Linked DNA regions of Homo sapiens: region 1 is linked to region 2. Evidence: fine-mapped expression QTL. A gene starts in region 2. The other region holds a variant in brackets. All regions are shown on one strand. Distances are between the middles of the regions. Region 1 has its middle 12 kb from the start of CACNG4. Region 2 holds the start of CACNG1 (calcium voltage-gated channel auxiliary subunit gamma 1).

Region 1 (5,372 bases), 92 kb after region 2:
AACCTCCGCCTCCCAGGTTCAAGTGATTCTCCTGCCTCTGCATCCCAGGTAGCTGGGATTACAGGCATGCACCACCATGCCCGGTTAATTTTTGAATTTTTAGTAGAGACAGGGTTTCACCGTGTTGGCCAGGCTGGTCTCGAATTCCTGACCTCAGGTGATCTGCCCACCTTAGCCTCCCAAAGTGCTGGGATTACAGGTGTGAGCCACCGCACCCGGCCTCAGAGAGATATTCTTTGACTGGTGCTGTATCTGTTGGGAGTGTCATCACCTGGGGAGTGGTATGGCCCATGACTCAATTGCCCTCTTGCAGCCTTGGTACCCAGAGGTAAGGACTGAATTGCCCTCTTGCAGCCTTGGTACCCAGAGGTGAGACCTTGAGGCTGTTCTGCAGGTAAGGGAGGTAACAGTTCCAAGGTCCCAGTTCTGTGCATGGCTGGAAGCAGCTGCCTGGCCGGCTGCCTTGCTGGGCTGCTCTGCATACTCAACACCAGCAGTCTCTTGTCCTGGAAGATGGGTTCGTGATGGAAGATGATTAATAGCAGCTTGACTTTGTTAAACAGTTACATGTGCTGGGCACCCTAGGACAAGAAAAATGTTGTTATCCCCATTTTAGAGATGGTGCAACTGAGGCTTTGGGAAGGCAAGTAACTGATTCCAGGTCACAGCAAGTAAGTGAAAGAGCAAGGACTCCAGTCTAGGACTGCCTGTGTCCAGGGGACATAGTCTTCCCATAGCTCAATAGTTTTCAACCCCGGATGCCCTTGGCAATGACTTGGGAGATTTTAGAAATATATGCCCCACTCTCAGGTATTCTGACCATGCTGGAGTGGGGCTGGGCATTGATATTTTTTGAAGCTCCCCAGTGGTTGCTGATGGGCAGCCCAGGCAAGATCAAGGGCACAAAGCCATGATGCCTTTGGACCCAAGATCTCCTGGAAAGTGTTTGATTTTCACCAGAATTCATCTTTGGCAGATACAGCCTGGCTCAGACTCTGGTAACTATCAAGGAATGTGGGGCTGGGGGTTCCTGGATCCATTTGGCTGGCTCTGCCACAGTGAGTACAGAAGACAGCAGTTAAGCTGGTGTGACCTGGGAGATTCCATAAGGTTCTTATTGCTACCTCTAGCCCTGCTGCCCAGCCAACTCTCTCTGTCCCCGGTGTGGGTCACACTGTCCCCAAAGGTGGGAAATGCCCATCAGGGAGAATGAGGGAGGCCTCTGGCTCTGCCTTTAGAAGGCTTCCTGGGAGGGGAGAGCTTGAGATGCAGGGGCCAAGCCAGCACCCTCTCCTTTACCAACTTGTCCCACTGGGAATTGTCGCTGAAGAAGACTCTTAGAGGCTGCCGTGGAGAACTGGTCACCACCCAGGTGGTTTACCTGGGGAGCTGGGGAGCTTTGGCATCAGACCAGAAGACTTGAAGGGTGAGAGTGAGAGAGAGGCTGGTGGGGGTGCCTGTGAGGTCCTGTATCCTGGCTGCTCTCTTGGGATGCTCCAGCCCCATCCCTGGGAGCATCACAGAGCCAGGACCGGAGGCTGCCAGCCTGTGGCTCCTCCTCCCTCTTCCTCGGCCAATTCCCAGCAAACCACCCGCTGTACTTGCCAACGGAGCCAGATGCTGCTTTGGGGAAAATACCTTCTGGAGTTTGTTGTCTGAGCCCTCCTAGCTGACACCCACGGTGGAGAAGACGTGTCAGGATAAATGGAAAATCTCTTCATAAATATTTGAAAAAAAGGCAAAAAGGAAAAGAAAAAAAGAATACCCCCCAACTCCCAGCGTTTGGGAGCATCTTCATGATTGTGGTACCAGATGGAGGAAGCAGGTCATTAGCGTTCATCAATTTGTAGTGGGATCCCAGCAAGAGGGCCTTTCTGCGGCTGCAGCCAGGAGCCCCGTGCTCGGCTCCTGGGACTGCGGGCACCAAGGGGCGCCTTGGCTTGCTCTGTGTGCCCAGGGGAGGGACAGGCCTGCTGGAGCCTCTGATGGGAGCCGTGGGGCAAGCACAGATGCCCAGCTGGCTGGCGGGGGAGGGTGACCTGCCCTTTATCCATAATGCATAATTGTGTCTTTAAACCCAGCTGCTTTGGGACTTGATTACAATTGGAGCTCAGGAGCAAGTAGCTTTTAGGGGAGCCCCTGGGAGACGAGTGAAGAGGCCCCGGGGGGTTGAGGTGCTAAGTGGATAGTGCTGGTGCCCACACAATGTGGGGAGAGCAGCACACCCCAGCAGGAAGGCCCAGGGGATGGGGACCTGCCTCCCAGAGAGGGGCTCAGCTGGGGAGACAGGACACTTTCATGCTGAGGCAGCAGTCAGGAGTCCCAAGGCCCCTGTGGAAAAGGGCCCTTCTCAGGTCTGGTGATCAAAGAAACTCAGCACCCAGGGAGAGCACTTGGCCTTGCTCGTGACAGCCCCAGTTCCTGCCATGTGCATCCCTGTGTGTTCCTGGAGCCGGAGCTGCTGCTCTCAGTCCCAGGAGAGCCTGGCCTTTGGGCTCCTCAGACACTTTTCTGCTTGTCCCCCTGCAATGTCACTTGCCTTCCTCCAGGGTCTGGTCCTTGCCTGTCTTGGATCAGGACAGGCAGACTCTTCATACTGGAGGGGGGGATGGTCAGCCGGGCAGGGCCTGGGATGGGGCAGGGTCTCTAGGAGACAAAACCTTGCAGAAAACCTTCATAGGTAGAGAGAAGTCGGGTTCCTAAGACTAAGTGTTGGTGGCTGTGGTCAGCTTGTAAAGGCAGACGTGTTCTGAGGCCTTCGAAGGGTGCCATGTACCCCTCAAAGGTCCCCTCTGCCCTGGACCTCTCTGCCTGGATTGTGGGGCACACAGACAAACCTCCCACTTTTTGACCCCCTGTAGTTTCCAGAGGGGGTGGCCCTCATTGCAGGGTGGCAGTGTGGAGAGGAGGCTGCCTGTGACCTAAGGTGTGTATGGCAGGATGGGAGGTCATAGCAAGCTTGACCAAGATGTTTAGAGCAGCATTTGTTGACCTGCCTCCTGCTCCATGCTGGAAATATTCATTGCTTCTGGAAGGAGGTAGACCGGCCAGGCAGGATGCCTGAGAGGGGTGCGGGCCTGGAGGTCGCGCTGTGCCGCCTGGCTCAGTGATGGTATTTATTTATCTGTCTCTGCCTTGGCTGGCAGAGGCATAAGAATGGCTTCAGCCTCGAGGCTGGATTGCTGTTCACCTTTGGAATGTTAAGTCCGCTTTTAACTATGACTCAGCTTCTCTTCAGTTTATTCACTGTGAG[T/C]CACCTACCTGACATGCTGTGTTATGGACGCATCCCTAAATGACCAACTTAGAGAAACTGGCGGTGAATACAAACAGCTACCACAGAAGGCTGGTTGAAAAGCCAGGGCTTTGTTCTCTGACCCAGCGTTTGAGTTACACTTGGTTCTCCAATCAACCAGAAATCGCCGGGTACTCACTCATTCATTTTCTCAGTTGGTGGATGAAGTGGGTTGAATTGTGACCACCCAAAAAGTATGCCTGAGTCCTAATGCCCAGAGCCTGCAAATGTGGCCTTATTTGGAAAAAGCGTTTTTGCAGCTGTAACCAAGTTAAAGATCTTGAGATGAGATCATCCTCAATTAGGGTAGGCCCTAGGTCCAATGACAAGTGTCCTTAGGAGAGAAGGGGAAAAGACACACAGAGGAGAAAGCAGAGATTGGAGCAAGGTGCCAGCAAGCCCAGGAGCACCGCAGACTACCAACAGCCCCCAAACTGAGGGAGAGTCGCGGAACAGGTTTTTCCTAGAGCTTCCTCAAGGAACCAACCCTATCTGCACCTGGATTTCAGCCTTCTGACTTCCAGAACTGTGAGAAAATATGTTTCTTTTTTTTTTTTTAAGCCATCCGGTAATTAGTTACTGCAACCCTAGGAAATGAATACAGTGGCTATCCGAGGGCCTTCCGGTGCCAGGCACTGTGAGCACTACTCAGAATGGAGCTGTGGGCTGGGCACTGTGGCTCATGCCTGTAGTCCCAGCACTTTGGGTGGCCGAGGTGAAAGGATGGCTTGAGCCCAGGAGTTCCAGGCTGCAGTAAGCTGAGATTGCACCACTGCACTCCAGCCTGGGTGATGGAGCAAGGCCCTGTTTCAAAAAAAAAAAAAAAAAAAATACAGCAGTGAACTGTGTAGGTGTGACCCCAGCCTTCATGGAACCTCCCATTCAGAGAGGGAGACAGACTCAAAAGGGGAATTGCATAAAGAGGAATTGCATGACAAGGCTTCTGAGCAGGAGGCAGGTGCCATGGAGTCTATTTCCTCCTTCCAAACCTACTCCTTCTCCAGCTTCTCCATCTCAGTACAGCACCACCATTGGCCTGTGGCTCAGGCCACAGACCACAGGCAACTCATCACCAGATCCTGCCAGTGTTATGTCCAAGATGCATTTCTACCCTGTCCACTGTTCCCTGTCTTGCTGCCGCCTCCTGGCCAGGCCACCTGCTTCTCTCCTCTGGATGCCTGGAAAACCCTCCTCCAGCGACACTGTCCTTCTCCTTCACAATTGCCACCTACATTCCCTCAATGCGTTCTCTCCTTGGCAGCCAGAGGATCTGTGCAAATGTCAATTACTTCACTTGTCTGCTGAAAACCATGTCAGAGAGTCTTCCCGTGCACTGAGGGTCAATATGAATGCCCACACCTGGCCTGTCCTATGTGATCTGGTCCTTACCTGCAACTGCACCTTGAGCTCAGGTTCCCTTTTCCCTGAGAGGCTGCCACACTGGCCACTGTCCCTCCCTCCAATCTACCAAGCTCCTTTCCAGCTCAGAGAGAGTTCTTCTTTCTCTCAGGTCTCAATTCTTGGTTTCAAGTTCAAGTTCAGTCTCAAGTTCAATCTCAGCTGAAACATCACCTTCTCAGAGAGGCTGTTCCAGACCAGTAGTCTGGATGGCGTGCTCCTCTCTTCATAGCTCTCACCCCCATAATCAACATCAGGATTTGCATGTCAGTGTGTCTTTGCATGTCAGCCTGTCTTTCTCATACCTGGCAAACTCCAGGAGGGACCCAGGTCTGTTTTGTTCAATTCTGAAACTCCACCACCTAACGCATAGGGCCTGGCATACAGAAATGCTCAATAAATTATTCGTTGAGTGAAAAAGTAAATGAATATATTTTCTGAGCTATATGGTGAGGAGAGGAGTAAAGAAGAACCAACACTTGTATGGTAAACGCCGCAGCTCCCGAGATCCTACAAGTTTGATATGACAGCAGAGTTGGAAATGTAATTACTTTGTTTTTCTCTCTCTTCCAAATGCCTTGTTTTTAAAGTTGGGTGTTTTGTGTTTTTTTTTCCCCCCTGTGTTAAGTAAATGTGTGTATTAACCCTAAGGCAGCAGAAAAGGAAGGGTTTGCAGGCTTAG
Region 2 (5,372 bases):
CTGATTTTCACTGTGATTACGGAATGTTGGTTTGCAAGGTTACCACAGAGCTGGGAAAGGGAAACAGGAATAAGGCAAGTTAAAACACCACAGAACTCACTGGTCCTCCTGAGATTCACCCATTTTTCTTGCTGGATTGCTGCAAGACTTTGGTTAATTTCCAGAGTTCTGAAAATGTTGATTCTGACCATTTCTGCCAGCCTTCTCATTACTATTATGGAGAAGATTATTTTTGGAGGTTCTTTTTCTATCATTTTTTTTCCTGATGTCTTTCAAAGTTAATATATGTAAAGCGTTTACAACAATATTTGGCACACAGGGCTACATGTATGTGCCATTATTATTATTGTTGTTAATAATAGATGACGGGCCACATATGAACCCACTTCCTCCCTCCAGAGAAGAGTGGTCCCAGGGAGCACAAGAAGGGCAGATGGGGAAGGAGAAAGATGTCCATTTGCAGAGAAAAGAGAGGGAAAAAGGCAGGAACATATTTTGGAAGATTACTGGGGGAAAGGTAGTGCTCAGTGTCACAAGTGTGGGAGGTGTGGTTCATAGCTGGTTAGGCTAAGAAGGCAAAGAGGTAGATCCTGTCAGGCTCAAGGCCAAGCAATGCCTGTTGGCCCCCTGCAATTGGTCCAGTCACCTCTCACCAGCCTGTCTCTTCCTTGTGTGGATTCTGCTCACTGCCCAGTCTTCTGCTCTGACTTTAAAAGGCAGATGGTTCCAAGGACGGGTGAACAGGACTGTAACAGCACGTCCCCATGTGTGGTCCCTGAAGAAGCTGCCTTGCCCTGCCCTGCCCTGCCCTGCCCTGCCCAGGGGAGTTGGCTGGAGGCTGTTCCTGTTTATGGGTGTGCTCAGCAGTGGCCAAGGGGCATGGGCATCCGGGCTATGCGATACCCTGCAAGCACATGGCCACACCTGTCACTCTCAGCCCTGGGACTTGGTGTTTCTACAACAGCTGGGCACTTATGAGTCTTCTGGGCCTCCAGTGGGGCTGAACAAGGGAGGGGATCTCTGGAGCAAGCAGGAGGGAAGGAAGAGGGAGCAGAGACAAGGGAGGATGGGGTCTGTGCTCTTTGCCTCACAAGCAGACTGCAAGATCTTTGGGGACTTAGCCCTAGTGTCCTTGAAGGACAGGTTTCAAGGAACACCTAGTCTGATAAAAGAGGAAATAATCCTGAAAACCAGGTGGGACATCACACTGACATCACTCTGCTCCACTGCCACTGTGGATGGGCGTCTGTAAGCCGAGGAAGGGATCTCACGTTGCTGAGAGTCAGTCCCATATTTTATAGAGGAAGAAGCAGAGGCTGAGATGAGCTTTGTCCTCCCTGGATGGTCATTTGAGGGTAGTGGGCAATGGCGATTAGATCCCTGGCTGCCTGGTCTCCATGAGCACTCTTTCCTCTAAAGTGCTGTATTTGCTAAGAATCCAGAAGCCTCTGCATTTGCAGAATAGAGGCTAGTCACGCGACTACCAGGTACTCCTGAAAAGGACCTTACCTTCAACGTGTGGTTCGGTCACACGGTAGGAAATCGAGGAATACGCTTAAATTACAGGGTGAGGAAATGCTTTGTAACTCTGACAGGGTCTGAGCTAAGACAGGATGCATAGAGGACTGAAGTCCTGACAAAAGGACAGGTGGAGGTCGGGCATGGTGGCTCACGTCTGTAATCCCAGCACTCTGGGAGGCCAAGGCAGGTGGATCACCTGAGGTCAGGAGTTCGAGACCAGCCTGACCAACATGGTGAAACCCCGTCTCTACTGAAAGTACAAAAATTAGATGGGTGTGGTGGTGCATGCCTGTAATCCCAGCTACTGGGGAAGCTGAGGCAGGAGAATCGCTTGAGTCCAGGAGGCAGAAGTTGCAGGGAGCCAAGATCATGCCACTGCACTCCAGCCTGAGCGACAAAGTTGTCTCAAAAAAAAAAAAAAAAAAAAAAAGAAGGTGGGGGCAGGTGGCTCACCTACAGCCTACAGCCATGTCCTGCTTCACAGACATTCAACCTGTGCAGCTGCTCCAGGCCCAGAGCCCACAAGGGCCCATGTGTGGTTTCATGTGCTGCTGTCACTGCCTTGAAATCCTTGGTAATTTGGAGCAAGGAACCCTGCATTTTCATTCTGCACAGGACCCTGCAAATTCCATCGCCTATGCTCTCTCCTCTCCTGCCTTGAGGCCAGGAACAAACCTGCCAGCCCCATGGGTCCCCCTAGCCTGAGGACACAGAGCCACCTAGCTTTTCTTTGCAGGGAGAGAGTGAGCAGGTGGGGCCCAGAAGTCCCTGGGCTGGTAGAGCTGCAGTTCCTTTCTTGAGCCTGCCCAGCTCTCTGCTCTGGGCAAAAAGCCCCAAGGTCCAGCCAGACAGAAATAGCTGGGACAAACGCCCTCGTCTTACAACCCAGCCCCAGCCACCAGCACCACACATGCAATTCATATCTTCTTCCCTGGGCAGAAAAGGCTGGGCGGCTGCCCTATTTCTAGGCAGAGAAACCTGCCTTCCTTCGCAAGGGCAACTTTGCCAGGGGGATGACGGGGAAGAGCAGGAGGTGGGGATCGGGACGGAGGGTGGGTACGTTACCCCCGGGCAGGGTGATGGGCCCGCAGGTCTTGCTGTCGTCCATGGGGATGCGCTTGGTACAAATCCGCCAGAGGCCGAAGTGGGCCGCCTCGCAGGTAGTGTTGTGGTGCTCCATGTGGGGGCTCAGCACAGCCCAGTGGTCGGTTACCACGGCTGTCATGGCCAGCACGATGCCTGCCAGGATGCAGAAGAGGGTCACGCGGACCTTCAGCATTTTGGTCTGGGACATGGTGGTCGCCGAGGCGTGGGTGCCCTGGGCAGGGTCCGGCGGCTGCGTCTCCTAGGGCAGGTGACAAGCCGAGCTTGGGGGGTGGCAGTGGTTGTCGAGCTGGGAGTGGCCACTAAGTTTAGTGTGCCTGGCTGAGCCAGAGTGGGCTGGCCTTGGGGCCGAGGGACGCGGGACGTGCTGAGCAGCTGCCCAGACGCGTCAGGGGCCTGAGGGAGGCTGCTATTAATGCCCATCTCCAGGCGTGGCACCGAGGACAGCTTCTGCTCGGGTTTCAGGGTTTTCTGCCCCTCTGGGAGCCAGAAATACCCCAGTGCGGCGGGGCAGGGTGGCAAGGAGAGAAGGCTCTGGATGGTAGATTGAGGCCTCTGTGAGTAGCAGCTCAGGGTGCCTGAGTTGGGAGAGGGCGAGAGGTGGGCAGCAGGGCCCCGGGGGTGGGGATCTGCCTGCTCTGGGCTGATGGGAAAGGGCAGCCCAGGCCAGGGGAGGAGACCAGGAGCTGCGGGCTGCACGGCTGTCCCGGGCTCCCACGGGGTAAGCCTGTTACCGGCAGGGCAGTGAGTAGGTTCTCATCCTGGGATCTGAGGGGCTAGGATTCTGTCTAATGACATCCCGGGAACCCAGTCCAGGGCCTGTGGAGTCCACCTCTTAGGCAAGCGTTTTAGCCACAAACCCCACGGCATCCCCCAAACCATAGGAAGGTTTTAGGTGGTTCCCAGGTCTGGCCTTACCCAACTCTGATCCCTCCACGAGAACATTACTTCCTTTTCAATTCTCTTTCCATCCCCAAAACTGGGTCCAGAGCAAAGCTCTGTTCGAGGTCAGTGTCATTATTGCCTGTAAAGTGTCCTTTGAAACAAAGCGAGAACGGCCCGAAGAGGACGAGGAATCCTGCTGGACTTGGTCATTCTGTTTTTCAGGGCACTGTTTGGTTTTGCCTTCTATTAACAGCAGGTGATAACGACTTTCCAGTTATGTTTGAATTTGAAAAATAAGTGTGTGAGTAAAAAAGAATGAATAGGTTGATTTATAGGGGATCATTAGGAGCTCATGGGCGTGCAGAGAACACAGAAAGCCCGGGATCGACCACCCTCCGACGGTCCTGTGCACCCGCCTGGCCCCCAGGCTGGTCTCCGAGGCTCCAGCCTCTACATCTCTCCTGGGTTGTGTCATCTCTTCCTTCTCGGCTCACAGGGTGGCCCTTTTTGGGTGTAGCCGAGAGGCTGACGCATGACCAGGAATAGCCTCCTGAGCTGGGTGGGGCCTTGAGCTTCAAAATCCTGGCCTCAGATTGACACGATTTACAGAGACTCTGCCCATGTGGACAGAAATGTTTCGGCCTCCAGCCTTAGAATCACAGAAAGTTCATGATGATGATAATCAGAACAGTGGCTCATCTTCAGTGAGTGCTTACTATCTACCAGGTACCCTGCTAAGCCTTCATCCATTGTCACAGTTACTCTTCACACCAATCCACAAGGGGACTACAACGGTTACTGCCATTTCACAGACAAGGACATGGAAGCTCAGAGACATGAAGTCACTTGTCCAAGGTCACACAGCGAGAAAATGAGGAATCCAGGTTTCAGGACCCAGAGCCCAAAGTCATAACGAATGGTTGGAACTGGGAAGAAACTTCATGATCTATTGTGACAGATTAGGAATCTGCAGCCCAGAGAGGAGATGTGAGGAGCCAGGACTACCTGGTGAACAGCCCCAGGGCTGAGCTGAACCCTCGCATCTCCAGCCACTGGCTTGTGCTTATTGCAGTTCCATCCAAACTTCCATATTTTTAAAATCAGTCTCTCATACATATTACAATCTCCTGAGAGCTTATCTCCCCACTGTTCTCATCTCTGCTTCCCTTCCTCCCTGTCCCCCCACCTCTGTGTTCCCTGTGGGTGCTAATCCATCACAACTGACTGATCACTGACTGACTGTTGACATATGCCACCGCCCCTGCTTCAGCTCGTGGAGAAACTGCCTGTCACCAGGTGGGTAGACCATCTCCATGGGGAATTCCCAGAAGCTGGGACATGGCTGCAGCCTCTGAGCCCTCTCTTGTTGTTTGTGGGGGCCCAGCTTCAGGATCCTGGCACCTGGGGATCTCAGGAGGTGCTGTACAGCTTGATTAGACCTACTGAGTGCCAGGCACCCAGCAAAGCAGTAGCTGGGGAGCCAGAAGAGGGTTCCAGTGTTTTAAGACAGAAAATCTAGAAAGAAGCTATTTAATTTTAGCATTACAAGTAAATACAGTGTCATTGGAAAAATGAAAGTGTCTTTTGAATTTCCTGGTGTGGTGGGGGTGGATGCCCTAAGCTCTTCGGTGCCAAGAGCCTCTGACGGCCTTGGAAAGCACCCTGAAAGGGCCCAGCCCAGAGGGTGCACCCAGCGCCAGCCATGATGACATTGCAGGCCCTTCAAAGATGCCAGGCCTTGGTGAGGACAGCAACCAGGAACTTCTGCTGCTCTTTCCCTCCATGGGGGGCAGGTTTGTGCCCCATGCAGGGGTCCAGAGTCCTCCGCCCCAGTGCAGTGAAAGCATTAAAGATTGATGGCC

The links. PIP is the estimated chance that this variant, and not a neighbour inherited with it, causes the effect.
Region 1: its variant is the best candidate, but not a certain one, in a credible set for the expression of CACNG1 in lung (TOPMed, PIP 0.81).

The regions. Positions count from the first base shown.
Region 1 is chr17:66,950,051-66,955,422 of GRCh38, reverse strand. No RefSeq gene overlaps it. Among named protein-coding and RNA genes, the nearest start is that of CACNG4, 12 kb to the left of the region's middle. The variant T/C (reference allele first, on the strand shown) is at 3,254.
Region 2 is chr17:67,042,104-67,047,475 of GRCh38, reverse strand. It overlaps CACNG1 (calcium voltage-gated channel auxiliary subunit gamma 1), which reads right to left and starts at 2,922. Exons shown (of 4, transcript NM_000727.4): 1 at 2,587-2,922. The coding sequence starts at 2,815.